Linked DNA regions of Homo sapiens: region 1 is linked to region 2. Evidence: fine-mapped expression QTL. A gene starts in region 2. The other region holds a variant in brackets. All regions are shown on one strand. Distances are from middle to middle. Region 1 has its middle 3.5 kb from the start of H1-0. Region 2 holds the start of LGALS1 (galectin 1).

The links.
Region 1: its variant is fine-mapped to the expression of LGALS1 in whole blood (INTERVAL, PIP 0.94).

Annotation. Positions count from the first base shown.
Region 1 is chr22:37,800,299-37,803,198 of GRCh38, reverse strand. No RefSeq gene overlaps it. Among named protein-coding and RNA genes, the nearest start is that of H1-0, 3.5 kb to the left of the region's middle. RefSeq lists a silencer at 777-826 and a cis regulatory region at 1-1,125. The variant G/A (reference allele first, on the strand shown) is at 1,724.
Region 2 is chr22:37,673,934-37,676,833 of GRCh38, reverse strand. It overlaps LGALS1 (galectin 1), which reads right to left and starts at 1,198. Exons shown (of 4, transcript NM_002305.4): 1 at 1,123-1,198. The coding sequence starts at 1,131. RefSeq lists a silencer at 1,256-1,395.

The DNA.
Region 1 (2,900 bases), 130 kb before region 2:
TGTTCCACCCTGAGAGCCCAGAACCATGTCACCCCATCCCCCGCCCCAGATCCGTGCATGTCTTAAAGACTGGATGAATCCAATGACACGACGATCAATAATTTTATTTGCACAGCGCTTTACAGTTTGCACAGTGCTCCCCACCGGTTTCTGGATCCTTTGCGCCTCCTGCCTTTGATCACTATCCCCATCACCCCTATTTTACCGCGGAGGCCCGGGACTTAGAAGGATGGATTGGGGGCGGGGTACTGTAAGGCTCAGCTCCCTGACACCTGGGCGTTCATTTCATTTTGTATCTCTCCTGTCCCTTCTCCCCGCCCATCCCAGCGACCTGTAAATTCCCGGAACTGAAGCCAGAATTGGGGAAAGGGGTTGCCTCGGGTTGCAGGGGCTTCCAGCTAGTGGACACCCCTTCTCCCGCCAGGCGGCGAGGTTCACCGCCCCTTCCCCTGTTCCGGGGAGTTGGAGGGGAAGGGAGGGGGTTCCCTGGGGCTTGGGCGCAGAGGCCGAAGCCGAGGCGGGCAAGACGAGGAAAGACGGCCTCCAATTGGCTTGGCCTCGCCTCGCCTCGCCTCGCCTCGCCTCCCCTCAGGGACACTGCAGAGCTGGGGGGCTTCTTCACTGCAGCCGGACCCCGCCTGGGCACCCAGGCAGGCGGCTCTCGGGTCCCCACCGGGCGCAGAGCCATCTTCCAGCTGGCGGACTGCGCAACCTCCCCCGCCCCCTTTAACGCGAGGCTCTTGAAACCCCAGGAACGGCGGAACCGCGGCAACTGCTCCTGGGAAATGTAGTCCCCGGCGCCGCGCCCCCTGCCCGCGACCCTCGGCAGCCGTCGCGCCCCCCGGGCGTGAGGAGGGGGTCGGACAGCTGCTGTGCCGTGGCGCGGGGAGGGTCCCCCGCTGTCTCTCTCGGGCCTCAGTTCTTCCACCTGTCGGCTCTACCTGTCTCTGGGGTTAGTGAGAGGGGGAAATGAATTCCTTCATGGAAAAGTATAAATCGCATTAGAATGCCAGGGGTCGTGTCCTTACTAATGGGTGTGTTTGTGCGTGCGCGCGCGTGTGCCTGAGCCCTTGGCACGTGACACCTCCACGTTACAGACAGGAGGCTCCCACCCCCACCCCTATGTTTAATGACTTGCCCAGGGATGATAGACTCTCAAGGCAATGCCCTGTTCACTGCACCACCTGTGGTCTTGTGGCATTCTGGGCTTTGTAATCTTTTTTTTTTTTTTTTTTTTTTTTTGAGATGGCGTCTTGCTCTGTCGCCCAGGCCAGAGTGCAGTGGCGCGATCTCGGCTCACTGCAACCTCTGCCTCCCGGGTTCAAGCAATTCTCTGCCTCAGCCTCCCGAATAGATAGGATTACAGGTGTCCACAACCACGCCCAACTAATTTTTTGTATTTTTAGTAGAGACGGGGTTTCACCATCTTGGCCGGACTGGTCTTGAACTCCTATCCTCGTGATCCACTCGCCTCGGCCTCCCAAAGTGCTGGGATTACAGGCATGAGCCACCGCTCCTGGCTGGTTTTGGAATCCTAATGCATTCCTTAATATGTGCCAGGCACTGGGATGGGCTCTGTGATATGGCCATAAACCAAAGTGACAAGAGAGCCCTGCCCTTGTGGAGCTGAGGTTCCCTGGAAAAGATAGATACACAATAGACTACATAAAGAAGTAAATTAGGCCAGGTGCGGTGGCTCACGCCTGTAATCCCGGCACTTTGG[G/A]AGGCCGAAGTGGGTGGATCACCTGAGGTCAGGAGTTTGCGACCAGCCTGGCCAACATGGTGAAACCCTGTCTTTACTGAAAATACAAAAATTAGCCGGGCGTGGTGGGGGGCCCCTGTAATCCTAGCTACTTGGGAGAATGAGGCAGGAGAATCGTTTGAACTAGGGAGGCGGAGGTTGCAATGAGCTGAGACCACGCCATTGCACTCCAGCCTGGGCGACAAGAACAAAACTCCATCTCAAAAAAAAAAAAAAAAGTAAATTATATAGTATGCTGGAAAGTGGCAATTGCAAAGAAACAACTGGAGCAGGGTTGGGGGTGGATATAGGCAGTGTCAAATGGTGGTGGTTTGCAATTGTATTTTTTGTTGTTCGTTGTTGTTTTTTGAGACGGAGTCTCACTCTGTTGCCCAGGCTGGAGTGCAGTGCCGTGATCTCAGTTTGCTGCAATCTCCGCCTCCTGGATTCAAGCGGTTCTCCTGCCTCAGCCTCCTGAGTAGCTGGGGTTACAGGTGTGCGCCACCACGCCCGGCTAACTTTTTTTTTTTTTTTTGAGATGGAGTCTCACTCTGTCACCCAGGCTGGAGTGCAGTGCCGCGATCTCGGTTCACTGCAACCTCTGCCTCCTGGGTTCAGGCAATTCTCATGCCTCAGCCTCCCGAGTAGCTGGGATTAGAGGCTCCCACCACCACGCCCAGCTAATTTTTGTATTTTTAGTGGAACGGGGTTTCACTATGTTGGCCAGGCTGGTCTCAAACTCCTGACCTCAAGTGATCCACCCACCTCAGCCTCCCAAAGTGCTGGGATTACAGGCATGAGCCACCACGCCTGGCCCCTTGTTCTACTTTTTGCTCCCTTCTCACTACTGAACTTGACTAGTCTAAAAAAAAAATGGTTCAGATGAATCCCACTACTCGGTATATATCCAAAAGGAAGGAGATCAGCATATTGAAGAGATATCTGCACTCCCATGGTAATTGCAGCACCATTCACAATAGCCAAAATATGGAGTCAACCCAAGCGCACATCAATGGATGAATGGATGAAGAAAATGTGGTATATAAACAAAGGGAATATTATTCAGCCACCAATAAGAAGGAAATCCTGTCATTTGCAACAACACAGATGGAACTGAAGGTCATCATATTAACTGAAATAAGCCAGGCAGAGAAAGACA
Region 2 (2,900 bases):
ATTTCCAGCCTCCGATTGTCTATGTGGTCCTGGGAAAGTCCCTATTCCCACCGGGGTTGGCTTCAGTCTGTAACGTGAAGGTTCTAGAAGACAGGCTCTAGAAGATTTTGCAGATTGGCTTGGGAATTTTGGACTCAAGAGTGACTTGGGAGATGGGGTGCTCTGTCCCATCGCAGATGGAGAGGATCAGGCTGGGGAGGGGCCGACACTTGGCCCACCGTCACACTGAATGGAGGGGCCGGCCCCTCTGCTGGAGAGGAAGTGGCTAGGGGCGGGCGACCCCACTATTCTCCTTCAAGCCCCTCTCTGCAAAGAGGCCCAGGGGCTAGAGAGGAGACCCTGAAAAACACGGCCTCTCTGCATTAGGGAGAATAGCCCTGCAGTCGGGCTGTGGCTGGGCTGGCTCAGGGTTAACAAGATTGAGCAAACTGCTGGGCACTGCTGTTCCCTGGCACCCCGAGTGGGTGGGCAAGAGTTAACTGGTTTGAGTGGTTTCTTCTGCCAGAAACTTGAACCCTTTCCCTGGGGCCCGAGGAAGATTCTCACCTCCCTGCCACCCCAACCTCCCAGCTTGGGGGTGGTGGAAGGGAATTTCCCCCGCCCCCCCCGCCACCAGCCTGGACACAACCACCCTCCACCCCCGACCTAGAAGGGCCCATCCTGGGCAGCTTGTCTCGGGTCCTGGCAACTTTTCAGCGTTCTCTGGAGCAGAGGGTAACTCTGCCCTGGCCTGGTGACCGGGACAGCTGCAGGGGGGAGGGGACAGGAGGCTCTTTGGGGTGGAGGAGGGGGAAAGGGATAGTGGCCTGGGTGTCCCCCAGTTGGCCACACCCTTCCCACGCTCACTTCTCAGAGAGCTGCAGAATGTCAACCCTGGGCAGAAATAACTGTGCTTTCAGACCCTGGAGGAATCCAGACAATTATCAATGCAGAGAAGGCCTTGAGGGACCATGGCGCCCACCCCCATTTTACAGATGTGGCCACTGAGGTCCAGAAAAGAGAAGGCACTGGTTCCAGGCCACACAGCTGGGGCTAGAATCTGCTCCCGATCTGCCCAGCTCTCCTCTGGCCATCAGTTCCTGCCCTATCCCCTGGACCTTGGGGGGGGGTCCCCACACTCACACAAGCCATGATTGAGTCCAGGAGGATGTTCCCGGGCAGGCGCACCAGCTGTCAGAAGACTCCACCCGAGAGAGATGGGCCCCCGGACGCTCCCACCCTTTTAACTGGACCGGACCGGGTGAGCCCCGCCCCCTGAAAGTTCAGCCAATTGCAAGTCAGGATAGGGCTGGGGGCCACTGGGGGCGGAGTCCGTGGAATTTTGAAGCCAGTTTTGGAGCAGAGGTGACCAATCAGAGTGGCGAGCTGCTGCCCCCCCTCACCCCGCCGCCCCCGGCCAGAGTCCAAGCTCCACCTCCTATTCTCCTTCATCCCTCTCCACCTCCCCACCAAAATTGTGCTGTGGCAGAGATTGGGGGAAGCCAGTGGAAAATAGTTTGATGATGAGCTAGGCCCACAAGTTGGCGGGAAGGGGCCTGTGGCCAGCAGGCTGGGCTCAGGGGGTGCCCAGAGAAGATGGCTGAGGAGGTGCAGGGTCCTTCAGGGAATCAGAGCTGGGGGAGACCAGGCCACTCCCGGGCAGGGACCAGGGCGTGGCTCCTGCTGCGTGCGCGTCTGCAGAGGGCCACTGACTTAACCACAGGCCCTGGCCCCACCCGGGCCTTCCCCGGAAGCAAGGACTGCGGCTGCTGCAGCGCTCTCTCGCTGGCTCCTCGGGAAGGCTAAAGAAAGGCTGGGCCGGGCGCCAAGCCTGAGGCTGCAGGGCTTGGCTAAGGCCTCGGGCTTGGCCGCGTTCAGGGGCAGGCAGGGGATAGTCAAAGCGCCCTGGCCTGACAGCCTCAGGCCTGAGAGTGTCAAGCTTAGGAGATGGCCCAGGGTGGTCCAGACCAGGAGGGGGTGGGGTCCTGGCTCTGTGCACCCTGTCCTTTCTCTTTTTTATTTTTATTTATTTATATATTTATTTTTGAGATGGAGTCTCGCTCTGTCGCCCAGGCTGGAGTGCAGTGGCGTGATCTCAGCTCACTGCAACCTCTGCCTCCCAGGTTCAACTGATTCTCCTGCCTCAGCCTCCCGAGTAGCTGGGACTACAGGCCCCCACCACCACACCCGGCTAATTTATGTACTTTTAGTAGAGACGGGGTTTCACCACGTTGGCCAGGCTGGTCTCAAACTCCTGACCTCAGTTGATCCACCCGCCTCAGCCTCCCAAAGTAATGGGATTACAGGTGTGAGCCACCATGCCTGGCCACCCTGTCTGCTCTCTTAACATCTCCTCTGAGGCCCGGCACAGCCCTCCCTTCCCTGAGTGTTCAGCAGGTATTTTACTGAGCACCTACTATGTACCTGGCCCTGGGCTCTGAGGATTCAAAGCTGAACCCCTCCCAGTCCCCACTCTCAAGGAGCGCATAGTTGGGGTGGAATCTGACCACAACCACGTTAAGAAGTAGATGATGGGCTGGGCGCAGTGGCTCACGCCGGTAATCCCAGCTCTTTAGGAAGCCGAGGCGGGCGGATCACCTAAGGTTAGGAGTTCGAGACTAGCCTGACCAACACGGAGAAACCCCATCTCTACTAAAAATACAAAATTAGCTGGGCATGGTGGCATATGCCTGTAATCCCTGCTACTCCTGAGGCTGAGGCAGGAGAATCGCTTGAACCCAGGAGGCAGAGGTTGCAGTGATCCGAGATCAGTCTATTGCACTCCAGCCTGGGCAATAAGAGTGAAACTCAGTCTCAATTAAAAAAAATAAAAAATAAAAATAAAAATAAAAAGAAGTAGATGATGATGGCTGTAAGGGAAGCCATGAGAAAGTGCTATGGTGGGCTGGCGGCTGCATGAG